4 linked regions of the Homo sapiens genome follow. The protein of the gene in region 4 purifies or fractionates together with the protein of the main gene of each other region. This does not show direct contact. Each region holds a gene or a part of one and is shown on either strand. Other genes may lie near its edges.

Region 1 (7,025 bases), on a different chromosome or scaffold from region 4:
CTGTTTCTACTAAAAATACAAAAATTATTTGGGCATGGTGGTGCGTGCCTGTAATCCCAGCTCCTCGGGAGGCTGAGGCAGGAGAATTGCCTGAACCTAGCAGGCGGAGGTTGCAGTGAGCCGAGATCTCACTACTACTGCATACTGCATGCCAGCCTGGGCGACAGAGCGAAACTCTGCCTCAAAAAAAAAAAAAAAAAAAGAATGAAGTACTAATATATGGGCTGCCACATGGGTTACCCTTGAAAATGTGTTAAGTAAAGAAGTCAGCTCCAAAAGACCACATATTATATGATTTAATTTATAGGAAATGCCCCTAGATTTTTTAGTGGTCACCCAGTGGAGAGGAGTTGGTGGCAAATGGCAAATGATTGTTAATGAGTTCAGTTTTCTTGGGGGGCAATAAATTGTATTAAAACTGTTTGTCTATACTAAAACCACTGAATGGCATACTTTATTTTTATTTTTGAGTTGGAGTCTTGCTCTGTCACCCAGGCTGGAGTGCAATGGCACAGTCTTGGCTCTCTGCAACCTCTGCCTCCTGGGTTCAAGCGACACTCGTGCCTCAGCCTCTCGAGTAGCTGGGACTACAGGCACGCACCACCACACTCAACTAATTTTTGTATTTTTAGTAGAGATGGGGTTTCACCATGTTGGCCAGGGTGGTCTTGAACTCCTGACCTCAAGTGATCCGCCAGCCTCAGCCTCCCAAAGTGCTGGGATTACAGGCATAAGCCATGGCGCCCAGCCAAATGGTATACGTTAAATGGGCAAATTTGGCATGTGAATATCTCAATAAAGATGTTTCAAAAAAAGTAGACAGTAAAGGCATTATCAAATGATTAACAGAATTATTAATTCTATTTAGTTCATTGAGTGGACATTATTTATATCCGAAGCATGATGTTGAACTCTAGAGATACTACAAACATTACTAATATGTAGTCACTTTTCTTAAGAAACTTTGTATACTAGAACCTCGTAAGTGGCTAGAAAATGAAATCTAATAAACTGGGTATTTTCTTAGATCCCAATTAAGGAATTCAAATTAACAAACTACTTCATTACAAAATATTTTCTATAATGAATCAAATCCCAAGGACGATATTAAAGAGGTCCAGGCCAGGGGCAGTGGCTCACGCCTGTAATCCCAGCACTTTGGGAGGCCAAGGCGGGCAAATCACAAGGTCAGGAGTTTGAGACCAGCCTGACTAACATGGTGAAACCCCGTCTCTACTAAAAATACAAAAAGCAGCCAGGCGTGGTGGCATGCACCTATAATCCCAGCTACTCAGGAAGCTGAGGCAGGAGAATCGCTTGAACCCAGGAGGTGAAGATTGCAGTGAGCCGAGATTGTGCTATTGCACTCCAGCCTGGGCAACAAGAGTGAAACTGTCTCAAAAAAAAAAAAAAAAAAAAAAAGAGGTCCAAGTAGAATTGAGATACAGTCCTCTTTCACGTTTCTCAATTCAACAAAAAGGTTTTGAACATCTATGTGGAATGTACTAGGTAACAAACACAATTTAATCTTCACTTTATACCATTTTTCTAAAAATGTTGTAATACCTGGTTCTCTTTTCTGTTTCTTTTCTAATCTTTGTTTTAGGCCTTCTAGTTCCACACCATCTTCTTGAGGGCTTCCTTCAGTATTTTCATTCTAAAAGATAGCAAAGTTAGGGTTGGATATAGAATAAATTCTGAACTATGGGATTAGAGATTTTATACATTTTTGGCTGGGAGCGGTGGCTCACGCCTGTAATCCCAGCACTTTGGGAGGCCGTGGTGGGCAGATCTCTTGAGGTCAGGAGTTCGAGACCAGCCTGGCCAAGATGGTGAAACCCCATCTCTACTAAAAATACAAAAATTAGCTGGGTGTGGTGATGTGCCCCCAACTACTTGGGAGGCTGAGGCACGAGAATCGCTTGAATACGGGAGGCGGAGGTTGCTGTGAGCTGAGATCCTGCCATTGCACTCCAGCCTGGGTAACACAGCGAGACTCCATCTCAACAACAACAACAAAAAAATTTTATACATTTTTTTTTCAATTTTAAGTGGACATATGCATCAATATTTTATGCATAATATTTTTAAGAGTATTACCTCTTTTTTTTTTTTGAGATGGAGTTTTGCTCTGTTGGCCAGGCTGGAGTGCAGTGGTGTGACCTTGGCTCACTGCAACCTCTGCCTCCCGGGTTCAAGCGATTCTTCTGCCTCAGTCTCCCGAGTAGCTGGGATTACAGGCGCCTGCCACCATGCCCGCCTAATTTTTTTAATTTTTAGTAGAGACAGGGTTTCAACCATGTTGGGAGGCTGGTCTTGAACCACTGACCTCAAGTGATCCACCCACCTTGGCCCCCAAAGTGCTGGGATTATAGGTGTGAGCCACCACAAGAGTATTACCTTAATTTTCTTTTTATTTTTCTTTTCTGCCTCTGCTTTCATTTCTATGGTTATTCGTGGAATGACTCTTTGACCACGCGGAGAAGGCAAAACTTCAGCCATTTGTGTTTTTTTCCCCTTGGCCTTCCCCCCTTTCCCAGGAAGTCCGACTTGTTCATCTTGTTTTTCCTTGGCTTCAACAGCCTACAGAAGGGATATAAGAAAGCAAGTTTAAATGTTAACAAAAACATTACAATATCTAAACACCCAACAGTTAAACTGATTTCATTTTGTTACATCTTAAAAACTAGTGATAAATTGCTCCATAACCTAGTATACTATCAACAATAGTGAAGATGTAATTAAAACACACCTTGAAAAGGAAGGTGTGGAGACAGAAGGACTGGGTTTTATTCCTGATTCTACCACTTAACCTTTTTGAGGAAAACAAGGGAGAAACTAAAAATAAAACATGTATATACATATATATTTGTAAACTCACATACAAAATATGAAAGGAAGTGATGCACACTTATCCAACCAACTGATTACAATGAGCTAGGCATCTATACTGAAGTGCAGTAATACAAATTTGCATGTTAAATTTAAGAAATAAAGCTTTTGGTGGTTTTTTTTTTGTTTTTTTTTTTTTAAGAGACACGCAGGCTGAGTACAATGGTACATGATCATAGTTCACTGCAGCCTTGAACTCCTGGTCTCAAGTGATCCTCCCACCTTGGCCTCCGGAGTAGCTGAGACTATAGGCCCACACCACCATGCCTGGCTATTTAAAAAAAACATTTTGTAGAGATGAGGTCTTGCTACGTTACCCAAGCTGGTTTTGAACTCCTAATCTCAAGTGATCCTCCTGCCTCAGCCTCCCAAAGCACATTGGGATTACAGGTGTGAGCCACAGTGCTGGCCTTTTTTCTTATGTTAAAATAATGTTGAGAAACAAATGTTATTAGGAAGATTTAAGTAACAAATAACCTTCTGAAACCATCTGGATAGCCCTGCTTTCTCCTTTTTTTTTTTTTTTTTTTAGATGGAGTCTTGCTCTGTCACCCAGGCTGGAGTACAGTGGCGCAATCTCGGCTCACTGCAACTTCTGCCTTCTGGGTTCAAGCAATTTTCTTGCCTCAACCTCCTGAGTAGCTGGGATTACAGGCGGATGCCACCACACCCAACTAATTTTTGTATTTTTAGTAGAGACAGGGTTTCACCATGTTGTCCAGGCTGGTCTCGAACTCCTGACCTCAAGTGATCTGCCCACCTCAGCCTCCCAGAGTGCTGGGATTACAGGCATGAGCCACCATGCCCTGTGGCTTTGTCCTTTTAAGTTGACTTGGGGGACTGGGTTGGTGGTCTTCTTCCACATTTAGGCTCTTTTTATCTTCTCAGTCCTAATATGTTCTTCCCTTTATCAAAAATCAACTCCTGCTCTTTTCTTTTTTTGTCCAGAAATGTCTGAATGTCTGGGCAGTCTCCTGGTATCATTTACTGTATTCTAAATAGTATTTTTTTTTTTTTTTTTGAGACGGAGTTCCACTCTTGTTGCCCAGGCTGGAGTGCAATGGTGTGATCTTAGCTCACAGCAACATCTGCCTCCCGAGTTCAAGTGATTCTCCTGCCTCAGCCTCCCAAGTAGCTGGGATTACAGGCATGTGCCACTACGCCTGGCTAATTTTGCAATTTTAGTAGAGACAGGGTTTCTCCATGTTGGTCAGGCTGGTCTCGAACTCCCAACCTCAGGTGATCTGCCTGCTTCGGCCTCCCAAAGTGCTGGGATTGTAGGTGTGAGCCACCGCACCCGGCCTTGTATTCTAAGTAGTATTTAATAATCTGTCCCTTTTTTTTTTTTTTTTTTTTTGAGACGGAGTCTTGCTGTGTTGCCTAGGCTGGAGTGCAGTGGTGTGATCTCGGTTCACTGCAACCTCTGCCTCTCGGTTCAAGCAATTCTCCTGCCTCAGCCTCCTGAGTAACTGGTATGCACCATCATGCCTGGCTAATTTTTGTGTTTTTAGTAGAAATGGGGTTTTACCATGTTGGCCAGGCTGGTCTTGAACCCCTGACCTCAAGTGATCCACCCAACTCAGCCTTCCAAAATGCTGGGATTACCAGCGTGAGCCACTGCACCTGGCCAATAATCTGTTCTTTTATACGCTATTTGGAATTTATCCTTATGCCTCTTATTTTCTTTTTATTGCCAATTGTGAACTATCTTGACAAAGGTATACTGCTGGAATATATTATTTCATTAATAAAAATTCTAACATGGGCATTATAAACTACATACCTCCAATTCTTCAATAAATGTAGCCAAGTCTTCTTTCCACAAATCTGATGGACTCTTTCTTTTTAATGTGTCCAGCTCTTGTTCCTTCATAAGATAATTACAAAATTGAGTTAATATATGTATACAAGCAGCATTTTCATGCAACACACAATTTTACTTTTACCATTAGAATAGAACAAAACTAAGCAGCATGTACCATCCTACTATCAACTCACTTTTTCATTTCTTAGCCTGCAGAGTTCATCTTTCTTTTCCTTGGTTAAATACCAAAGGGGCATATCAAGAAGATAGTTGAAGGTTGGTCCAGAATCTGTTACGGAGTCACTCTTTTCAGTTTCCTTTTCGTTGTCACTCTCTTCATTTTCTTCTTCATCTGGAACCTAAAGGATTAATTAAAATCTAGCTTTATTAGAAAATGTGAAACATAAACATTGTACAATACATAGTCTTTAACAATATAGAAAAGTGCCACCCAAGATTACCTTTTGCTGGGCTTCTTTCCAGGCCTTCACAGGATCCGAATCATATCCCCTCTGAATCAGAACTTTAATTAATTCTTTCTTAGGCTTATTTTCTATTTTTAAAAAAGTAAACAGAGATAATGATTTTGAGTAATATTTTAGGAAGGGGATAAGGTTTTACACAAGTCAAAAGTTTAAAACTGGAAATTAAACTGTCTTCGTGCTTGCATAAATTTGTATATCCCGGTATACAGGCAAGTCTCCCTAAACCATTGACAAATGTAAATTACCACAAGGGGGCAGTCAAATCATATATGATCAAATCATTTTTTTTTGGAGACAGGGTCTCTCTCACTCTTGTGTCCAGGCTGGAGTGCAGTGGCACTACCTAGGCTCACTGCAGCCTTGACCTCCCCAGCTCAAGTGCTGAGATTACAGGCATGCGCCACCACACCCAGAGAGTAGAAGCCATTCGTAATCTTCCTGCCTTTTTTTTTTTTTACCATCAGATTTATTATCTCTTCTCTGTCTCTTTTATTTTCTGTTCCTGTAGACATGATTAGTGTATCTATTCTCTTGGTCAATCAGTTTATGCAAGGTCTTCTAGCTCTCTATTCTCCTCATGTCTAATTGTCAACTAAATCTTGATTTCTCAAGATGCTCAGTCAAGGAAACATCATCTCTTTCAAACTATAAATACCTAATCAGATATTTTAAAGAAATGCGTGTATAAGTGACCAGGTGAATTAAATGGATTTTGCCTCTTTCTCCACCATTACTCTCACCAAAAATGTTTAAAGAAAGTTTGGCGTAACTAGAGTTTTAGTAAGCAGTTATTATTCCCAAAACATACCAATGATTATTTTGCCATCTATTTTCTCTAAGATAAAGCGAGCCTGATTATTCAGTTTAGCAGATTCAGCACCAAGCATTCCTAGGAGCCATTCTTTTCTTAATCCATAATATTTAAGTCTGAGTTCAAAAAAGTCTCTTAGAATATCCAACACCGTGTCATATTTCTTTAAACAGCCTACGTGGTCAAAAAGCACCTGAAAAAGGAAAACAAGATTAGAGCCAAGAATAGACAAATTGGCTAAACTTTATAAAGGTAGACTAAGATATACTTTTAAAATTGATATTAATCTTTAATATAAATTGAAACGTGTACATCTCACAAAACAAATACATACCATAGAGTTGCATGTGAGACTAGTTTGGAGTTTGAAGACTTTGTGTAGTCCAACTCTCTCTGCCTCTGCCAGTTTTTCTTCAGTCATCTTCACAACAAATTTCACAGTGGTATCTGTATGGTATTCCCTATAGTCTGTTATGAGAGGAGGTGTCTTCTCGGTGCCATTCAACATGGGTTCTAGAACTTGTTCTTTGTATGTCTAAAGAAAGAAATAATCCTGAAGTTTCTAAAATATAGGCTTCTGAATAGTCAACAGCAATAGTACAAAAGGTATTTCTTTTGATCACAAACCTAAAAAAGAAATCCATAATTATTTACCTGGGTCCATGTTCTGACGGGAAGCTCTGAGATTTCAATGGTTGTAGAATTAAGAATAGCTACTTCACCACTAATCACATATTGATTTGGAGCCAGTTCTTCAATAGTACCCTTGAAGTTCTTGTAACTTGGAAGCTAAATTGGCATTTAAAAAAACAGTATGTTTTCTAAATGTGATACTAGACGGAAATCACAACAGCGTTTAACAATAAATCTAAAGTATGAAATTAAATTTTATGTTTGCATCATCTTTAATCATACAATCTATTCAACTGAAACCCAAGGAAAAGTTAAGGCTCTTAACACACACAGAATACTTACCATTGGCAAAGGTTCTTCTCCATCCATCAAACGCCTGATGTTATTTACAATTTCACGC
Region 2 (7,025 bases), on a different chromosome or scaffold from region 4:
TGTAAAGATTAATCACAAGCAGAGTACCCACAGAACATTTTAAGATATTTTGATGTGTTTCTGTACTGTCCGTTCTTAAATGATTTTTATGTAGTTCATTTATGTCTCCTATGTATTGTACGTTTTCAGATACTATTTTTTTGACTCAAATTATAATTTGCACATCACTTGAAGTTGTATTTTTAAAAGACTATTATTGCTGGACATTTATTACTATTGGGTTGTTAGTTGTTAGAACTCGGTTATAAAAATTCATATAGAATATGACCAAGTAATTTAGATCTGTATGAGGCAAAAAGCAAAAGTAGACCTATTCATTCTACAAGTGGTTTTTACACCTTCCAGATGTAAAGGGAGTAACAAGGCAAGAAAATGGGATCAGGGCCGAGTGCAGTGGCTTTCACCTGTAATCCCAGCACTTTGGGAGGCCGAGGCAGGCGGATCACCTGAGGTCAGAAGTTCAAGATCACCCTGACCAACATGGAGAAACCTGGTCTTTGCTAAAAATACAAAATTAGCCGGGCCTGGTGGCGCATGCCTGTAATCCCAGCTACTGGGGAGGCTGAGGCAGGAGAATCACTTGGAACAGGGAGGCGTAGGTTGCAGTGAGCCAAGATTGCTCCATTGCACTCCATCCTTGGCAACGAGTGAAACTCCAACTCAAAAAAATTAAAAAAAAAATGTGATCAAGGAGTTTGTTTTACTTATCTAAACTATTGTACTACTATAAAAGGATGCTGGCAACCTGTTACATGAAAGAACTGAGGGACTGTTCTTAGGATTTCTAACAACAGTCTGCGTAACATGTTAAAAGTGGTGCTCGAGAAACCACACCATACTACCTAGAGAGAAATGGTATTGTTTAAGCATCAATAACACCACAAAAAGGTATTGCCACTTGTAGGACGAGGTAGTCTTGACAAAATATTGCAGATGAAGCTGAGTAAGCCTTGGTCCCAGCTGCTGCTTTCAAGAGTTACAGAAGAATATGTGGAATTGTTCTGAGAGTATCAATCCTGGAAAATACAGACTGGGAAACTACAAGTTAATACTGTGGATTCTTAAACAGATAAATTTTAACCTAATGCAATAGAAGCGGAACTTACCTACAAAAATGCTTCAAATGCATCACGTTTATTTTTCTGGGAAGACTAGAATGTCTATAGTTATACATTTAGGCATTAGAATTATTTTAAAAGTGAGAAAGTGCTAGTAAAGTCATAATGGTTGTTACCTTTTGGTGAGAGGAAGGGGGATTGGCAGTGGAATCAACCACATAGGGTTTGTTTACTTATGAGACTTTACAGGGATGCAACTGCTCTTGCACCTTCACACATTTTTATTGAAGTCCCTTGTGCTCACCCACTATTGGAGCAGGTGAAACTTCTAAGTTTTAACTGCTTTTCTAAAATTTCGTTCCTGTTGCTTTTCAATAAATAACTGCTGGTTATTTTGGTATTCTTGTATTTCTAAGTCTATTATTCTCCAAGTTGCTTACCTTTTATTTCTCCCACAGTCAGTGAAACCATATATGCTGGCTTGCCTTTACTGCCTTGCATTTTGGAATTTTGATTTAAATGCTGTCTGTAGGATAGTGATTTTGCCATCTTGAGTCTTATTTTGGGAGTCAGAGATTCAAAAACTACTCTGCTCTTGCTGACCCCTTCCAAGAATCCCAGTTCTTTTCCAGTAGTTTCTTTGTGTTACAGTATCGTCCTCCCTTTATGGAAATTTCACCTGTATGATACTTTAAAATTTTGAAGTAGAATGAAGTGTGACTTGACATCATTTGGTTATTTCTAAAACTTCAGGAAATGTACCTCTTCCATAAAATTTGAAGTAGCAATACCACTGGAATTTAAGGAAGCTCTCAGGACAGTCTTTGTTACTATTTGTGCCCTGGATTTTCCCTGAAATGTGGTACTCAGCACATGGTTAGTAAATATTTGATCCCCAAAATGAATGAATTTGTAGTGACTGTTCATTCCTTAGGAGGACACGTTACTAAGAGTGGAATTAATCCGTATTGTGAGTACGTCTGTCTTTACTGTTGCCTCCATCTTGAATTTAAGTCCTCATAGTAAGTATGGGTATTTTATTAATTTTAGGCAAACTTTGGAAGTTGGGATTTTTGTATTTTAAAAATAAGTAGTTGATGATTTTTGTAGCAAATTTAATAACCAGACCATAAAGAAAATGAGAAATCATATCCTTAAACTCATAACAACCATTGCTAGCATCCTTGTATGCCTGGATGCTTTTCTACTGAGTTTTTCCTTTGTGGATCTTTGAGAGAATTAAGGCCTGATACACATGAAAAATGCCGTGGGGTATGAATTCCTTGCATCTTGATTAGTACTAGCTATGTACTCAGACTTGTGAAAATAATACTAGCTATGTACTCAGACTTGTGAAAATTGAGAAAATGGTCATTTAAATCCATTTCTGTCTTATTCCAAAGGGTACCCCTTTCAATCACATCTGTATTTTTCTGCAAATGTCCATTTGGAACATTGGACTGTGGTTTGATGGGTTTTTTCCCTTATGGTCAGTATTCTGTGTTGGCTTACGGAGCCCCTCACCCCTGGTAATTTCTTCTCATTAAACCTATGGAGATTATATTTTCTATTGATAAACCTATTTGTGAAAAATAGTTGCTTAAAACCAGATTATACCTCCACTTGTAATAATGGGAAATCTTAATAACCAGCAGTAGTATCTGAAACCAGTTAGGCCTCAATGCAGATTTTTGTTTTAATTCCTCTTTTTAGTGTCCTCAGACTTTCTGGCATACTTAATAGCTGAAAGGCTGTTGGTGGATTTCAGTGGCTACTGTTTGTTAATTTTTATTGCTTAGTGTTAAAATATTAAGAAGTTTTTGTAAAGATATACTTTAGAAAGTAACAAAGACAGACTTTTGAATTTCAGAAAGATTTGGAAGGAAGTGAAGTTTTGTTTGAGCTTTTAAATCAGTACTGCCTGTTAAATGACTGTATTAAGCATCAGAATGATAGGAGTCATGTATATATGAAATGGTGTTAAACTACCTGTTTTTATGTACATATATGTATACATTAGACTTTTTTACATCATCCGTGAGAACTAGTTTGTCATGATTCACTTGAGGATTGGAAGGATAACAAATACTGGAATCTTTTGAGATTTATCAGTACCTTTCAAAGGGATGAAGGGGAAATCAATCTTAAGAATGTTTTTAAATCTTGTTCAAGATTGGGGGTTGGAGTGGGAAGAGGCAGGAAACAAAATGCTAAAAGAATGAAATAAAACATTTTCGCTTTACGGGACCTGAGATGGTATTGTGAATCTGCATATGGTTATGGTAGGATTGAGCCTCCATCACATACATAAAGACAGATAATTTTTGGTTTTAAATAATGCGTGGAAAGTTGTGTATTTTTCTTTAATTCCCCAATCTTTAATTTGATTCATGCCGTGTTCCACTGGCTAGTTTTATCATCATCACCATCCGATATTATTAAATGTCCTATATTTTAGGTTATATAAAAAGTAGCCTTCGAGTCATTGCAGTCTGTAAAAAGATGGTATTGATACTTATGTATCTAAAGCATACTGCAGATTAATTGAAGTATCTGGAAATAGGTGTTTCCAGTGTAAATGAATTGATTCTATTTATTGCCTTTTGAAGAAAATTATACTTAATGGGTAAGTGTAAGCTATCCATATTAATCTAGCTAATGAATGGCTTGGGACAGAATTTGACGTTTGCTATGCTGTGTGTATATATACAGAACCGGTGAAACTCAATAAAAGCAACGTGAATCAAGATTATTGATGGCAGGGAATAGTTAGCATGACCTGTAATGTGAAAAACAGCAGAAACTGGTGTCAGAGAATTTAGGCAAATCTAATTTGCTTGAGTACTTAGAGGAGGGCCACTTGGAATTATGTCCAAGGAAATTATATTGCCAATGATCTGCCAGGGAGAATTTTTTTTTCCTGAGAATTTAGAGTTTAGTGCTGCTGAAATAGAATGGAAGAGGAAGAAGTTGACTTTCTAGAGTATATTCAGAGGCTGGAGTCTCTGAAATTATTAGCAAATACATACTTAATGCTGTGAGTCCCTTTAAGTTGCCTAATACTCTGGGCAGTTAACAGTGATTCAGAGTGAGAGTGGAGAATGTTTTATCAAGGAATATTGTTTTTAGCATCTGTTCACCTGTATACTTTTTTTTGCTTTACAGTTTTCGGCTTTGTGAGAAACCTTACCATCAAACACGATGGCCAGCAACGTTACCAACAAGACAGATCCTCGCTCCATGAACTCCCGTGTATTCATTGGGAATCTCAACACTCTTGTGGTCAAGAAATCTGATGTGGAGGCAATCTTTTCGAAGTATGGCAAAATTGTGGGCTGCTCTGTTCATAAGGGCTTTGCCTTCGTTCAGTATGTTAATGAGAGAAATGCCCGGGCTGCTGTAGCAGGAGAGGATGGCAGAATGATTGCTGGCCAGGTTTTAGGTAAGTGAATTTTTTCATTGATGATGTAATTCAGGCCTGAGTTTTTCTATTCACGTTTTTTTTTTGTCTTTATGTCTGTAAAACTGACAGCATGAGATATTCTGGATATTGCGACTGTTTAGCCTAATAAAAATACATTAGGCTTATAGTTATAATTGGCTAAGTAAAGGATATTCTTCATTGTACCATTTTGTGTAGTAGAGCTAGGACAACTCTACTACAATCGTGAGTAGGGGGAGCTGGGAATGACACTTCACAATGTAAAAACGTTGCCTAAATGGTTGTGTCCTGCCCACAGCAGACTGGAGGAGCCCTCTAGTGTTGATTGCTTGTCTCCCCATTGGGATTTCACTCCATCCGTTGGGCCGACTGCAGTTTGGCTCAGTGTTAGATTTTCTTGTATTTTAAAATGTAATGACACCTCAGAGTACTTACTACCTATGATTTGGTTTATTCAAGCCAGAATCCAGTGTCCACATGTTTATTTTATTAGTTGTACTAGATGTCTGTTTTAACTTCTCATTTTATGTGTACCTTGTGCCTCAGTTTCAAAATTATCATACCTTTGTTTTTACAAAGTTAAGATGATTATTTTTAAATTTATATTTGTGATTTAGTTTATTCTTTGTATACATTCTACTATGTATATTGACTCAAAGCATGGTAGGTTAGAGTTATGTGAAACAATTCTTTGATAATGTTATGTAACCAACCAGATACATAATTTGGGTCTATTTCATTGTTTTTACATCTTACTGGATTGCTTTTTCAGAAATTTAATTCTCTTTAGTTTTGAAACACTTTATATGGTTTCAAAGTCAGAATTGTAAATGAGGTTAATGTACCAAAACCTGAAGGTTATTCATGTAATGGTGTTCAGCAAATAGACAATATATTCAGTCCTTTTTTTTTTTTTGAGACAGAGTCTAGCTCTGTTGTCCAGGATTGTGTGCAGTAGTGCAGTCTTGGCTAATTGTAACCTCAGCCTCCCGGGTTCAAGCGATTGTCCTGTTTCAGCCTCCCGAGTAGCTGGTACTACAGGCATGTGCCACCACACCTGGCTAATTTTTGTATTTTTTAGTAGAGGTGAGGTTTCACCATGGTGGCCAGGCTGGTCTTCAACTCTTGACCTCAGGTGATCCTCCCGCTTTGGCCTCCCAAAGTGCTGGGATTACAGGCGTCAGCCATTGGACCTGGCCTGAGTCAGTTTTCAGTTGGTCATTTGATGAGCTGCTTTTGTATAAAAAGGGAAGATAAATAAGATTAAGTTTAAGATATCCACATTTGGCCAGGTTCGGTGGCTCATGCCTGTAATTCCAGCACTTTGGGAGGCTTGAGTTGGGCAGGCCATGAGGTCAGGAGATGGAGACCATCCTGGCTAACACCGTGAAAAGCCATCTCTATTAAAAAATAAAATTAGCAGGCTGTGGTTCTGGGTACCGGTAATCCCAGCCGCTCAGGAGGCTGAGGCAGGAGAATTGCTTGAACCCGGGAGGTGGAGGTTACAGTGAGCCGTGATTGCACTCCAGCCTGGGCAATGGGGCAAGACTCTGTCTAAAAAAATACCCACACTCATCTAGTTAATGGTTTGAGGTGGAATTTGGAATTTATATTTTGGGGCATTTGTATATTAAAATGAAGCTCATTTTAATAAAAGCAGTATATATGAAAATGGAGTTACTGTTGACTCGAGTGCTGTAGCATGACTGGGAAGGTAAACTGAATTTTAGAGAGTTTTTGGCTTTTTGACATGGGCTTTTTAGAACAAGGAGAAGATAAATTCTTGTTTGGTAGGCAGTGGGTGGCAGGGTAGGTAGCTGGGCATACGTGTTACAAATTGTATTTGAAAACCAGGGTTGTTTCCCTTTGCTCTTTTATTTTTTTTGGTGTGTGTAAAGGTTGTTTAAGCAATTGATCAATTATTCAGAAAGCAGTCGTTAACCCAGGATATTTTACGTGTAGAACAGCTAATCCTTACTTATAAAGAAAATCTGAAGTTGCCTTTGAGGATGATTTGAGGTTGTCACACTTCACTATGTTAATTTGTGAATTGGCATATATTTTAATATATTTCATTCTAATATATTTGTAATAATTCGGAATGAGCTGAACCATTCTTGGAAAGGCAACCAGTGATAGTTTTCTCTTGTAATAGTAACTGAGTGAACAGTCAGTACCTTGAATGGGGAGAGTTGAGTTGAAGTGGTATCTGAGGGTGGAGAGTACCAAAGACAGACTTAATGTTAGTCTCAGGAACACTTGAATGGTAAAGAACAGACTACAAAGAAACGGAAGATGAAGCCTTAGCCTTGTAAAAATTTGTGAGCCTTTTTAATATTAAAAGGAGAGATGAAGCTGAGCTTGATAGCTCACACCTGTGATTCCAGCACTTTGGGAGGTCAAGGCAGATCACGTGACCCCAAGAGTTCGTCCCTACGAAAAATAGAAAAATTAACCAGGCGTGGTGGTCCCTGCTACTTGGGTGGGAGGATCACCTGAGCTTCGGAGGTCTAGGCTGTATTGAG
Region 3 (7,454 bases), on a different chromosome or scaffold from region 4:
TCTCAGTCTTGGTTCACTGCAACCTCCGCCTCCTGGTTTCAAGTGATTCTCCTGCTTCAGCCTCCCAAGTAGCTGAGATTAGAGGCATGCGCCACCACGCCCGGCTAATTTTGTATTTTTAGTAGAGACAGGGTTTCTCCATGTTGGTCAGGCTGAACCCGACCTCACATGATCCGCCCGCCTCGGCCTCCCAAAGTGCTGGGATTACAGGTGTGAGCCACCACTCCCGGCCCTAAAGTTACTTTTATTTAAATATCTTTATTGGCTGGGTGGTGGTATGTGCCTGTAATTCTAGCATGTGGGAATGCCAAGGTGAAAGGATCACTTGAGGCAAGGAATTCATAACCAGCCTAGGCAACATAATGAGACCCTGTCTTTACAAAAAAGTTTTTTTAATTAGCCAGATGTGGTGGTGCACACCTACATAAATAAATAAATAAATAAATAAATAAATAAATAAATAGGGCCGGGCACAGTGGCTCACGCCTGTAATCCCAGCACTTTGGGAGGCGGAGGCGGGCAGATCACGAGCTCAGGAGACTGAGACACGGTGAAACCCCGTCTCTACTAAAAATACAAAAAATTAGCCGGGCGTGGTGGCGGGCACCTGTAGTCCCAGCTACTTGGGAGGCTGAGGCAGGAGAATGGCGTGAACCCGGGAGGTGGAGCTTGCAGTGAGCCGAGATTGGGCCACTGCACTCCAGCCTGGGTGACAGAGCAAGACTCCGTCTCAAAAAATAAATAAATAAATAAATAAATCTATGTATCATTATTGCCCTAGTATTTCTTTCAGTTTTGTCTTTTTTTTTTTTTTCTTTTGAGACAGAGTTTCACTCTTGTTGCCCAGGCTGGAGTGCAATGGTGTGATCTTGGCTCACTGCAACCTCTGCCTCCCGGGTTCAAGCGATTCTCCTGTCTCAGCCTCTGGAGTAGCTGCGATTGCAGGTGCCTGCCACAATGCCCTGCTAATTTTTTGTATTTTTAGTAGAGACGGGGTTTCACAATGTTGGCCTTGAACTCCTGACCTCTGGTGATCCACCCACCTCGGCCTCCCAAAGTGCTGGGATTACAGGCGTGAGCCACCGCGCCCAGGCTTCTTTCAGTTTTCAGGAATGTTGTGGAGCTGTGTCCTGTTTGCCTCATGGAGCTGATGAGCTGGGAGAATTCAAGGGGGTTGATGGAAGGGGAGAAGGTAAGTCCCCAAGTGACCCAGTTGAAAACCAGGGCCTGGGCCAGGCACAGTGGCTCATGCCTGTAATCCCAGTACTTTGGGAGGCTGAGGCGGGAGGATTGCTTGAGGTCAGGAGTTGGAGACTAGCCTGGCCAACATGGTGAAACCTCGTCTCTACGAAAAATACAAAAATTAGCCAGGTGGGGTGGTACACGCCTGCAGTCCTAGCTACTTGGGAGGCTGAGGCAGGAAAATAGCTTGAACCCGGGAGGCAGAGGTTGCAGTGAGCTAAGATTGTGCCACTGCACTCCAGCCTGGGCGACAGAGCAAGACTCTGTCTTGAAAAAAAAAAATGTTGTGTTTCAAACAACTTTTGACAATCAGTGCTGTAAAGCTGAATCCCAGAGACAACTGAGATAGGAGCAGGAAGATCTGTGGTCCAGTCTCCCTCTGGCCTTATAATTATCTTCCTGAGTTACTTACCTTCTTTGAGACAGTGTTTGCTTGTCCTCCCAACTAGCCTGAAAACTTCTTAGGAGAAGGGCCAGCCTTTGGGGTCATGTTCCTGTGTGACCTGTCTCTAGGAACTTCTGCATACCCAGCTCTGCCCACTTGGAGCTAGTGTCCAGGACTCCACAGCACTACCCGCACTAAATACCTCGGTCTCAGTCTTGTGACAGAAAGTGGCCAGTGTGGTGGACATAGTGCAGAGGTTTAGGGTCTGACCAACCTGGGACAGCAATTTATGGGCTAGGTGACATCCTTGAGCAACTGTATGACCTCAGGCCTGTCATATGGTCTCTGAGCCTCAGGTTTTTCTTCTGTAAAATGGGAGTGATAAAACCGACTTCTCTGCTGGGTATGGTGGCTCACGCCTGTAATCCCAGCACTTTGGGAGGCTGAGGCAGATGGATCGCTTGAGCTCAGGAGTTGGAGGCCAGCTTGGGTAACATGTCAAGACCCTGTCTCTACAAAAAATATAAAAAATTGGCTGAGTGTGGTGGTGTGCACCTGTGGTCCAAGCTACTCCGGAGGCTAAGGTGAGAGGATCGTTTGACCCCTGGAGTTAGAGGTTGCAGTGAGCCGAGGTCACTGCACTGCACTCTAGCCTGGGTGACAGAGTGAGACCCCATCTTAAATAAATAAATAAAGTATTTTGTGTAAACACTTGTAACTGTATTTCATTGAGTGTGATACATGTATATACAAAGAAACATAAATAGTTGCCAGTTAAACTATGACACATCATCATCAACTGGAACTGGAACTGAAATCACATACTGACTTCAGCAATGTGAAACATTGGCCGGTCGCGGTGGCTCACGCCTGTAATCCCAGCACTTTGGGAGGCCGAGGCGGGCGGATCACGAGGTCAGGAGATTGAGACCATCCTGGCTAACACGGTGAAACCCCGTCTCTATTAAAAACACAAAAAAATTAGCCGGGCGTGGTGGCGGGCGCCTGTGGTCCCAGCTACTCAGTAGGCTGAGGCAGGAGAATAGAGTGAACCCGGGAGGCGGAGCGTGCAGTGAGCCGAGATAGCGCCACTGCAGTCCAGCCTGGGCAAAAGAGCGAGACTCCATCTCAAAAAAAAGAAAAAAGAAAAAAAAAAGAAATGTGAAACAAAGGCCGGGCGTGGTGGCACTTTGGGAGGCCGAGGTGGGCGGATCACCTGAGGTCAGGAGTTTGAGACCAGCCTGGCCAACAGGGGTTAAAAATACAAAAATTAGCCGGGCATGGTGGTGCATGCCTGTAGACCCAACTACTCAGGAGGCTGAGGCAGGAGAATTGCTTGAACCGGGGAGGCGGAGGTTGCAGTGAGCTGAGATTGTGCCACTGCACTCCACCTTAGGCAACAGAGGGAGTCTGAAAAAAAGGAAGAGAAAAGAAAGAGAGAGAGAGAGAAAGAGAGAGAGGTAGGGAGGAAGGAAGGTGGGAAGGGAGGGAAGGGGGGGAAAGGGAGGGAAGGGAGGAAAGGAAGGGAAGGAAAGGAAAGAAAGGAAAGAAAAGATAGAAAAGAAAGGTGGCTCGTGCCTGTAATCCCAGCACTTTGGGGAGCTGAGGCAGGCGGATCACTTGAGGCCATGAGTTCGAGATCAGCCTGGCCAACATGGCCAAACCCTGTCTCTACTAAAAATACAAAAATTAGCCGGGCATGGTGTCTTTGCACGCCTATAATCCCAGCTATCCCTTGAACCTAGGAGTTGGAAGTGGCAGTGAGCTGCAGATTGCGCCACTGCACTCCAGCCTGGGGGACAAGAGCGAGACTCCGTCTCAAAAAAAAAAAAAAAAAAAGTGAAACAAAAAGTGTGCCTTAAAATAGATGAAGTACTGTATTATTATTATTATTAAAGGGCTGGAGCCAGAACAAGTTAGCATTTTGTGCCTCGAGATTCAAATCCCAGGTCTACCATTTATTCCTTGGGTGACATTTTTTTGGGGGGAGGGGCTGGAGGACAGGGTCTCACTCTGTCGCCTAGACTGGAGTGAAGTGGCGCGATCTCGGCTCACCGCAACCTCCGCCTACCGCGTTCAAGCAATTCTCCTGCTTCAGGCTCCCGAGTAGATGGGACTACAGGCGCGCGCCACTACCGCCCGGCTAATCCTTGCGTCACTTTAAGCAAGACACTTGATCTCTCTGTGCCTCAGTTTCCTCACCCGCAGAATGAATATCAATAGCTCCTGCTACACAAAACTGTTTGGGCTATTAAATATGTGAATACTCAGAAAGTACCTGGCACAAAGTAGCCTTATCATTGCTATTATTTAGAACAAAGTTATTGTTTCCAGGTTTGGAGGTGGGCTGGCGGAGGGAGGAGAAGACGCACTAGGTTGCCTTTCAGAAAAGGGGTCCAGGCCTTATCCTGCCTCCCAGGTGGACTCGGCCCGGGATCCCGAGCCCCGCCCCCTCCAGGCCCCGCCCCGCCCCGCCCTCGCTGGCCGAGACTCTGTGCTACTCTCGCGCGCTTTGAAAGTGCGCGAGCTCCGACCGAGACCTGGGCCGGCGGTTGGTCGGCCGAAACCATCTGCTACGTTACGTGGGGGGAGGTCAGCTCCTATACAGCCACACTTTTTTCAATCTTCAGCTTTTCAGGCCTAGGTCCTGGTTTTATTTTAGCTTTCAGAGCTTCTCTGTAGGCTTGAATTTCCAGGAGGCAGCCCGAGTCCCTGGGGAGAGGGTCATCGTGGCTCTCGTCGGTGCCTTCCACCTCTGGACAGGCAACCGGTGGGAGAGGACGCCGGTGGGCGGGGGGAGGAGGCGGCCCTAGCGCCATTTTGTGGGAGCGAAGCGGTGGCTGGGCTGCGCTTGGGTCCGTCGCTGCTTCGGTGTCCCTGTCGGGCTTCCCAGCAGCGGCCTAGCGGGTGAGTCGCGGAGCCTTCTCACTGAGGACGCCGTAGGTGCCTCGGCTTCTGCATTGGGGCGGCCCGAGGCAGACGCAGCGGCTTCGGACCCTGCCCCGGGAAGTCAGCCGTGAGACCGGGCCTAGTCCTGCCCGAGCGGGCTCGCGCGGGAGCGTCGTTAGGTCCTGGCACGGGGAGGCCGGTGGCGCCGAAACGGGGGGCCGGGCCCGCGGTGCCGCGTAGCCTGAGGCGGAGGTTGGCCCCGGACCCGGACAGTGCCGGAGCCTTCGGTACTTTGTACTTCGAGGGACGCTGCCAGCTTGGGCCTGGTGCTCCTGCGCCCCACCCCGGGCCGCGCCGAGAAACTCCTCCCTCGGCTGGCACGCGCGGGCTTCTGGGAGGCGACGGCCGGCACCGCCAGGACCTGTCGCCGCGGGCCTTGGGGCTCGGGCTCGCAGAGCCCCCGGAAGCCCCAAAATGAGGAACAGAGGGAAACTTTTCTCCTGTTCTTTACACCTGGTTCACTGCCCATATTCAGTCTTCAGGTTCAGCTGATGGATCGCTTGCTTAGGAAAATCGACTGGGACCTATCACGCCCATGCCTCAGCCAGTTAGGCTCCTCCTCTGCCTTCAGGATTACTTAACGACTAACCCGATTGTCATAAAATAGCTACTGTTTATTGTTCCCTTGCATACCCTAGCTTGTAACCAGCAAGCCACGTTGGACTCACAGTTACAGTTTCAGTACCTGACGCATCATAAGCCTTCAGGGAAAGTTTTTTGAATGAATGAACTGGCGAGGCATCACATTTTGATAGGAAATCACTACCCTTACCTTCACCTCGTCATTTTTCAGGGATAACCAATGCATATACGAATCCAGACAAGCATTTTTCTGGAAGTCAGAACTCTGACATGGTTTGGGTATTATCATTATAAGGAAACAGTTATTCTGACATGAATGTTGTTCATTCATATCTCTTTTCTCTTTAGGAAAAGTAAAAGATGTCTGAATATATTCGGGTAACCGAAGATGAGAACGATGAGCCCATTGAAATACCATCGGAAGACGATGGGACGGTGCTGCTCTCCACGGTTACAGCCCAGTTTCCAGGGGCGTGTGGGCTTCGCTACAGGAATCCAGTGTCTCAGTGTATGAGAGGTGTCCGGCTGGTAGAAGGAATTCTGCATGCCCCAGATGCTGGCTGGGGAAATCTGGTGTATGTTGTCAACTATCCAAAAGGTTTGTTACCATTTGGTTTTTGTAATCATGCTGAAGTGTGTTCAGGTGTGTGTCTCATCCATGGATCTTAGCCTCTTTTGGTGGCAGAATGTCTCCTGAAACTTAAGTATTTCCTTGAACTTCAGTGTTAGACAAGTTTGGAAGACCACGAGTCTAAATTTATGGAAACTGGGGATTGTAGATCATTTTAAAAGAGAAAACAATGTATTTAAAAAATATCTGAATAAACTTTGCCAAGTTGATGATAAATTTCAGGAATCACTAAGAATGTTTTGTACATAAATCATTGTTGTAAATAGATTCTTCTGAAGTGCTTCAGTGTTTGGATTTGATCATTGTCCTTTTGGTGTTACATCATTCATTCAGCAAATCTGAGTTCATTTTTTCCCTTAAATGAGCAAACAGTTGGAGTAGCCAAATCTTGAATTAGTGCAGTTCCAATTACAATTTCGAGGTTCTGGTCTTATCCTTCTCTCTGCCTCTTATCAATGATGTTCTAAATCTAAGAAAAGGAAGCATGAAGTTTAAGAAGTGTGCCAAGGAAATACCTAATTTCAGCATTTTGAAGTAGTGTGCTGTTAGTAGTCGATCTGTCTGTGTGTTCCTTTTATTATAACTTGGTATTGCAACAAAGTCCATCAAATTTGGTCAGTATGCAAGACACCCTTTTACATGTCTAGGAAAACTTTAGGGCTAGGCACGGTGACTCATGCCTGTAATCCCAGCACTTTGGGAGGCCGAGGCAGGTGGATCACCTGAGATCAGGAGTTTGAGATGAGCCTGGCCAACATGATGAAACCCCATCTCTATCAAAAACACAAAATCTCTGGATGTGGTGGTGGGTGCCTGTAATACTAGCTACTCAGGAGGCAGACGCAGGAGAATCGCTTGAACCGGGAGGCAGAGGTTGCAGTGAGCAGAGATTGTGCCATTGCACTCCAGCCTGGGCAACAAGAGCGAAACTCCGTCTCAAAACAAAAAAAAACGAAAACAAAAATTGGCGTGGTGGCGGGGGCCTGTAGTCCCAGCTAGTCTGGAGGCTGAGGCAGGAGAATCGCTTGAACCTGGGAGGCGGAGATTACTTTAAGCTGAGGTCGCGCCGCTACACTCCAACCTGTGACAGAGCAAGACTTCGTCTCAAAAAAAAAAAAAATTGATAATGTAAACTCGGGGTTTTTAGTATGCTGTTTCTTCAGCCAGTGGGTATAGATTAATATTTACTCAAATTTAAAATGTCAGGCTCGGTGCAATGGCTCACACCTGTAATCCCAGCACTTTGGGAGGCTGAGGCAAGCAGATCACCTGAGGTCCGAAGTTCAAGACCACCCTAGCCAACATGGTGAAACCCTGTCTCTACTAAAAATTCAAAAATTAGCCAGGCGTGGTGGTTCGCGCCTGTAGTCTCAGTTATTTGGGAGGCTGAGGCAGGAGAATTGCTTGAACCGGGAGGTGGAGATTGCAGTAAGCTGAGATCGTGCCACTGCTCTCTGGCCTGGCAGCAGAGCGAGACACCGTCTCAAAAAAAATTTTTTAAATGTCATTTAATTTATCTCCCCAGGCTGGACATGGTGGCTCACATCTGTAATCCCAGCTACTCGGGAGGCTGAGGCAGGAGAATCACTTGAACCCGGGAGGCAGAGGTTGCAGAGAGGGGAGATTGCGCCACTGCACTCCAGCCTAGGTGACAGAATGAGACTC
Region 4 (7,025 bases):
AAAAATAAAAAGCCACAAATCTCTATTTTCTTACAGAGCTGAAAAAGGAGAGAAGGAAGGATTTGATAATTTGTCATTTGCTTTTTATCTAAACATGCTTTTTGAAGAGAATCTGCCACCATAAAGTTCTGACATTGGTGTAATTATTCTTTGTGAATATTGTCTGGAAGATGTGGTGTTGGTAACTATGCTTGCTATCTCAAGTAATACATTGTTAACCAGTGATTGATTTATGTAACTATGAAAAAAACTTTAAAAAAAGTAGAAATCAATGTTTAATTATGCCCAGACATGTCATTATTGAACTTTGTATTAAGAGATTGTTTAAGCGTGATTTTAAGAGGGCCTAACCCATCTTACAGATTAACTGTACAAGTTCATATATTAAAATCAAACGTCTCTCATTTTGCCTGCCCTCATCCCCTAAGATATAAAAGATTCCCCCCCGTCCCCCCACTTTGGAGCTCATTCTTCGCAATATTTAAAATTGTAGCTCTTTGCATGTAATTTAGAACATTCTGACCCATACTCAACTGCTGGGAGACTCTGTTATTTATATTTAAAATGTTGACAGTGAGTTAGGAATTTGGAGCAGAAACCATATCTAAGTCTAAGTGAAAAGACTTCCTAAGTATTGGTAGAACTAACTGTAGTGGGGCTGAGTCATTATTACAGTACTGTACAGGCTGCGTAGCTATCTGTAGAATTGATAATGGTAATACCAGGTTAAAGTGTTAGCGATTCTTCTGCTGTTTCAGAGGTCTTGAAGTTTTTGCCTGTCTGCTATGGAGATAGGGAGTTCTCCCCCATTTGACCCCCTTAGCAAAGCACAATACTTGGCTCCATCAGTCTTTAGTCTAAGAAGTGATATATAGGATCATGGTTTGACATCATCTTGTGCTGATTCTGGTTGGCTTAATGGAATCAAATTGGATGAAGGTAATTAAATATGAATTGTTTCTGATGCTAATAGATAGTTGTACTTCTGTCTGTTGGGTATGGGTTGGGATGGGCGGTAGCATAGCTGATTGCGGTGGGGGAATTTCAGATAGCTGATGATGTGGCTATCTGAAAATTGCCACTACATTTTTAAAACTGAAAAGTGATGGTACCGCCAAATGAAATCTGCAGCATCCTCAGACTCAATCAGGAAATACTTAAGCATTATGCTCCAGGGTGGTTTTCTTCCCTTACATTGCAACTGGACTCCTTGAGGCACCTTTTTAGAATTAGTGAGCCGCTAGGATTTTTATACTATGCTTTGACATAAAAGAAAGTTGCTTGTCAATATGTGTTTTTTTAGTTTACCAGCATATCAGATCTCACAAACAAATTTTAGGCTCGGATTGGATGTTTCTAGTAAAAACAAGAAAATCCAGGCATCACTAAAAGAATCAGAAATACGTTGTGGCTTGAAAGGTGCAAACTAAATAATATAGCTAGCAGTAACGGTCACCAACTCCTGCTTTTCTTTGGTTCAGTAGATAGAGTAAAATGGAAAATAGGAAACCAAGGTCAGTCCCCAAATCTCATTTTAACCAATAGCAGCAAAAAAAAAAAAAAAAAAAAGGAATTGAGTCTGACTTTTTCCCCTTGCTGTCAGCATAAAGATGGGGAATTGAGAGAGTTGGAAAGACATTCATTAGTTTGTTCAGATTATTAAATAACATGTCTTAAAGTTTATATTCCAAAATTGGGCTGTGAGGTTTTTTTGTTTTGCTTGTTTTCAGTGCATGTGTGGGGTGGGGAGGTGCAAAAAAATGTTTGCCTTCTAATATACAGCTTTGTTGTATATTAATTATATAGTAACAGTTGTCCCTGCTGCTAATGGTATGGAAAATGATTCTGTTGTGCTTTCTGAATACATATCATTTTAGAAGTTTCAGATTATACTAAAACCATGTTATTTCATATTAGTTGGACATGAATGCATATTTATATGACACATCATTATCAACTTTTGCCTTTTGCCATCTTTTTAGTGCAAAGTAAAACTGATATTCTTCAAATCCAAAGTCGTTTCCTCAGAAGTGTGTTTTGTGAGGGATTGCATCTTTCCCATGTGAAACTGTGTCGAACTCCAGTAAACTGTGTTTGCTTGGGAAAATGAATTCAAATGTAATTAGTTTGAATGAAGCTGTGGAAATGTTTGAAATGAGTATTTTGACATTGGACCTGGAGGTTTAAAAAAAAAAACCCTATTGAAAGAATAGTAAAATATATTGGATGTGGAGGTGAGAGTCAGTTGAGTGAATTTTCTGTGTTGTATGGTTTAGATTATCTGACTATCCCTTAATTATTTTGAAACCATTAACTTTGGATAATAAGGGCATTTAGGCAAACAGTTGACACATGGATTTCTTAAGGTAAAAAGTTTAGAGACTTCCAAACTAGTCCTTAAGAGGCGAATGGGTATTGTGTTTAAAGGAAGCTTTCAGATTGTGTTTAAACTTCGAGTAGTAATATTTGGAACTGTCTTTTCTCCCTATTTCCATGCCTCATACATCTCAAGTTTGAGCAGCAGCTTTCCATCCCCATGGCTCCAGGCCAATAGCTGCAGTAGAAAATCTAAAATAGAGGCCAGGGTTGGAATAATTAGCATTTTGCCAACCCCCACCCTCCCTGCCACCTGCCTATCTAGATGTGGACAGTATGTGCTGTGTTGATAGCATAGGGCCTGGGAAGGGTGGAGAGGGATGTAAATGAGGGCAGGGTGGACAAAGTTTGATTGGGGGTTGCGGGGAAGCTTGTAGAGGAATGTCTGTTAGATATTGATGGTATTTTGGTGGCGTTATGAGAAATGGCTGATAGTTTGCTGAAATGATTTAATAGTAAATAGATATTGTTGAACATTTTCTGTGTGTATAGGAAAGATCCTAGATATTTTTCACACTGGGAGAGAAGTGATGTTACTGGTATCTCATGCATATCTCTGGAGTATATAGATCGTAATATCAACTTTGGCTATCTGTATCGAAGTTTGTATTAACTGTCTTTATGTGTGTCATTTATGTCTCTTAACGTTTAGTAAGAAAGAAATTCCAAGGAAGGTAGGCAACTTTTAATTTTAACTTCTTTCCTTTACTTTTTTTTTGGGCGGGGTGGGGGGCAGACAGGGTTTCTGTTTGTTGCCCGGGCTGGAGCGCAGTAGTGTGATTGCAGCTCACTGCAACCTCTGCCTCCTGGGCTCAAGCGATCCTCCTACCTCACCCTCCCAAGTAGCTGGAACTACAGGTGCATGTCACCACGCCGGGCTAATTTTTGCATTTTTTGTAGAGACGAGGTTTCTCGCCATGTTGCCCAGGCTGGTCTTGAACCCCTGGGCTCAAGCAGCCTGCCCACCTCAGCCTCTCAAAGTGCTGGGCATGAGCCACTGTGCCTGACCCTTAATTTCTTTTTGGTAGGTATTCATTTTTCATTTGTTGTCTTAAGCTTCTAGTTTCACTCACTTACCTGTCTGCTAAATTTTTCTGAAATGTGTAATAAATGTTTTAATTTACCATCTCCCTTCTACCCTTCCCATCAGATTTGGGGTGGGGAGGCATCTCTACCAGGCAATTAATTCCCCTCTGAGCCTTTGAAATTAACATTTTTGTTTCTGTGGATTCAAGGAGCCTAAAGAACACAGTTCATTAGCATTCCTAAGAAACACCTAGGTAAGCTCCAACAAAAGATGTTAAAGCAATCAGTATTTTTAGGGACTTCAGATCTCCTGTATTTGTTGTTGTAAATGATGATGTTGGGAAAAGAATTTAACAGATCCCTGGGTATTCTGACGTTTTCCTATATTTTAAGAACGAAACCGACCCAGCCAGCTTGTGGTCCCATTATTCTTTATATTGTTTTTCTTAGCACACGCTAGCAAAGATAGATGCCTAGGACTTTTCTTGGCTATTGGAGTTTATAGAAAAAAAGTTCTTTGTTGAAGGTTAGTCCTCCACCAGAATAATACACCCTTTTTCCCCTTAGTAGAAGTCCAAATGTTAATCTTGCTATCATATATGTATGAATGCCCAGATTTATAAAGCTTTGTAGGTATATTACTGATTGTGCAGGAGACTAATCTAGGAGGCTTCAGGATCATTGTCATTTGTGGATCTCATTGGCTAAGACCTTTTACTTAACCTGACTCCAGTAAGGTAGCCCCTTTGTTTCCTTGTAGTTGACTATGTGAGCTCTTGCCAAGCAGCAGAAGTGGGATGAAGGGAACTAATTTTGAAAACTTATTAGGCACCACATTTTTATGTGCATTAAATCTGAATTGAATAAAGATAATATAGATTGCATAGGCTTATGGGGAGAACCAGAGACCAGGAAAGGAAACGTTTTTTTCTTTTTACCCTTTATGCCTTTTCATGTCCCCTTTTTGATAACATGCTGCCTTGGTCCAGATTCTGGAAACCCCACTCAGGCTGTAATTGGTAAGCTTCTAGTACAGATGTCAGAACCTGCCCTTGATTATCTGCTGTTAGAGATAGCTTGGACCCTTTGTATGTGGAATGTTAGGTCTAGGGGAAGAGTGGGGGTGTGAGGAGACAGCTGTGGTAAAATAGAAAATTGGTGTAGGATTCCGAAAAATCGAGATAAGTCCCTGTTCTTCCTATGAAACATGATCTGACCACTGAACCTTGTTTTCTTATCCATAAGCAAGGATAATATTTATGTTTCACAAACTGTTGAGAATTAGATAAGTATATGAAGGTGCCTCTCTGTCCTCATTGTAAAATGTAAACTTTGATGAGACAGCCTCTATTCTCAACTGGATCTTTATTTTGAATGTTAGGTTTGAAATAGTGATTGATGTTGGGGAGTCTGTCTTTCATTGGTATTCCCTGTTAAAGTTTTAAATCTTCTTGACATTTACACAGTGAATTGTAACATGTAACTAGTGTTGTTGAGTCTTTACCTAATTGAATCAGCAGAGCCTACACTGATGTCTTCCAGTTACAAAGCGGTCACTGTAAAGTAAAAGGTGTCTTCATATCTAGGTTTGGGCTGAGAAGGATCCAATTGTATATCTAGTTCCTACTTTTCTTTTTTTTTTTTTTTTGAGATGGAGTCTCACTCTGTTACCCAGGCTGGAGTGCAGTGGCGCAATCTCGGCTCACTGCAAGCTCCGCCTCCCAGGTTCACGCCATTCTCCTGCCTTAGCCTCCTAAGTTGCTGGGACTACAGGCGCCCGCCACCACGCCTGGCTAATTTTTTGTATTTTTAGTAGATACAGGGTTTCACCGTGTTAGCCAGGATGGTCTCGATCTCCTGACCTCGTGATCCACCAGCCTCGGCCTCCCAAAGTGCTGGGATTACATGCATGAGCCACCGCGCCAAGCCTAATTCCTACTTTTCTAAGAATGTTTACAGCAAAGTGGTCATTGCCAAAGGAACTTGTAGCAGTACAGAAGATGGGCTCAGAAATGAAAGAAGTCTATTGATGTGACTAATTTCTCAACCATTTAATAGAATTATGGATTTTCTATTAAAAATAACTTGACCCTTTTCGATGCATTTAATAAAATGCCAAGTTCATTATTTGTTAATTTTTTAAAACCACAAAATTCAATATGTCTTGTGTCAGCATATTTTTTCAAAGGCCACTATTTTACTTCTCCCCCAAAACGTTTTTAAATTAAACAGAGAACTCTCAAAGCACCTGAGAATTACTTCAGTTTTTCATTTATTCAAATAGTTGCTTAAAGTGACCAACTTGGTTTTCTTTGAAATAGTAATTCTTGGGAATAAGAATACCTTAAATAATATAATAAAGCTTATGTGTGAGAATTTAGTACCAAATGCCGTGTTAACAGTTATGCGTGAGTATAGGCATTTGGGAGATTCCATGAAAAAATTTGATAAAGTCAGTAGAAATTTCAGTAATGGCTCATAAGTCTAGCTAATGCTGAATATTGAATTGCCTTGAATTTGTTTTTTTGGAAGTGTTACTTAAAGGAAATAAACAAAAGTCATTTAAGGATGTGTTCACTAGTGTTCATTAGGTTTAAGCCAAATGGATCTTAGTAGAGATCTTACGCCATTCAGCAAAAGGATTATCACAGAAGCATCACAACAGGCGCAGACTTAAATTCAATTAAAAGTAGGCAGGAGGACATAATTTTGTTGTATAGAAATTATGGAATAGGGCCTAATTTTAAAGAGTCTTCAAAGATAAACATATCAGGAAAAATATAGCTCATAAAATATGGGGAAAAAAATCTGGGAAGATGAGTATTTGTTAATGCTCTGTAGCTCCATTGCCCTCAGTATACAAGGAATGTGCCCACAATAGGGTTGGATTTAAAAGTCTTCAAAGCTTTGGTCTCTTTTTCTTTCGTTTTCCTCTGATACAGAATGCGAATAGTCTCCCGGCCTCCAACCCCCTCTACATCCCCACCACCCCATAATAGAGACTTAAAGGGAATTTAAATTCGAGTTCTTGAGCTTCTGCTCAATGGCTAGGTCTTTGAACAAGTTAATATCAGAGCCTTAGTTCTTCACCTATAAAGTAGGTTTAATACTTACCTTACAACATTGAGGATTAAAGAGCATGAGAGGATTACTTTATGAAAGGTGAAGCTTAGAACAGAATTTTTAGTTCCTTGCCAATGCTAAAAAACAACAACAACAACACCTTTTTCAGAAATTGCTTTATTAGGCTTTTGTACAAAGGGAACATCTTTACTTTCTTTAAATTTGCACATATATCTATTGTGAAATTTTAACCAAGCTGGAGGGGTCACTAGGGAGCATTGAGTATGATACTATTGCTGTAAATCATAGAAAGGCTGGCTCAGGAGGGTACTGACTTGCTTTGACTTTGCGGCAACTTCAGTTGTCCAGTGACAAGGCTTGCTGCATACACACCACTTTGTTTGTTTCTCATACCTTAAATTGTGGATTAAAAATCTTTGGGGCAGGCCTGGAGGCTCATGCCTATAATCCCAGCACTTTGGGAGGCCGAGATGGGCAGATCACTTGAGCCCAGGAGTTCAAGATCAGCCTGGGCAACATGGGAAAAACCTGTCTCAACA

The links.
Region 1: the proteins of TOP1 (region 4) and TOP2A purify together in Homo sapiens (co-immunoprecipitation; 4 studies listed by BioGRID and IntAct, with this or other methods). This does not show direct contact.
Region 2: the proteins of TOP1 (region 4) and HNRNPC purify together in Homo sapiens (affinity purification with mass spectrometry; 3 studies listed by BioGRID and IntAct, with this or other methods). This does not show direct contact.
Region 3: the proteins of TOP1 (region 4) and TARDBP purify together in Homo sapiens (affinity purification with mass spectrometry; 2 studies listed by BioGRID and IntAct, with this or other methods). This does not show direct contact.

The regions. Positions count from the first base shown.
Region 1 is NC_000017.11:40,393,883-40,400,907, forward strand, and holds part of TOP2A (DNA topoisomerase 2-alpha), read right to left. Parts: coding exon 6,968-7,025; intron 6,782-6,967; coding exon 6,647-6,781; intron 6,528-6,646; coding exon 6,327-6,527; intron 6,186-6,326; coding exon 5,990-6,185; intron 5,250-5,989; coding exon 5,158-5,249; intron 5,056-5,157; coding exon 4,891-5,055; intron 4,760-4,890; coding exon 4,676-4,759; intron 2,584-4,675; coding exon 2,401-2,583; intron 1,658-2,400; coding exon 1,567-1,657; intron 1-1,566. UniProt on the Homo sapiens protein: Key decatenating enzyme that alters DNA topology by binding to two double-stranded DNA molecules, generating a double-stranded break in one of the strands, passing the intact strand through the broken strand, and religating the broken strand.
Region 2 is NC_000014.9:21,231,428-21,238,452, reverse strand, and holds part of HNRNPC (heterogeneous nuclear ribonucleoproteins C1/C2), read left to right. Parts: intron 1-1,992; exon of another isoform or gene 1,993-2,080; intron 2,081-4,223; 5' UTR 4,224-4,259; coding exon 4,260-4,500; intron 4,501-7,025. UniProt on the Homo sapiens protein: Binds pre-mRNA and nucleates the assembly of 40S hnRNP particles. Interacts with poly-U tracts in the 3'-UTR or 5'-UTR of mRNA and modulates the stability and the level of translation of bound mRNA molecules. Single HNRNPC tetramers bind 230-240 nucleotides.
Region 3 is NC_000001.11:11,008,210-11,015,663, forward strand, and holds the start of TARDBP (TAR DNA-binding protein 43), read left to right. Parts: upstream 1-4,444; 5' UTR 4,445-4,534; intron 4,535-5,506; 5' UTR 5,507-5,518; coding exon 5,519-5,756; intron 5,757-7,454. UniProt on the Homo sapiens protein: RNA-binding protein that is involved in various steps of RNA biogenesis and processing.
Region 4 is NC_000020.11:41,031,799-41,038,823, forward strand, and holds part of TOP1 (DNA topoisomerase 1), read left to right. Parts: intron 1-7,025. UniProt on the Homo sapiens protein: Releases the supercoiling and torsional tension of DNA introduced during the DNA replication and transcription by transiently cleaving and rejoining one strand of the DNA duplex.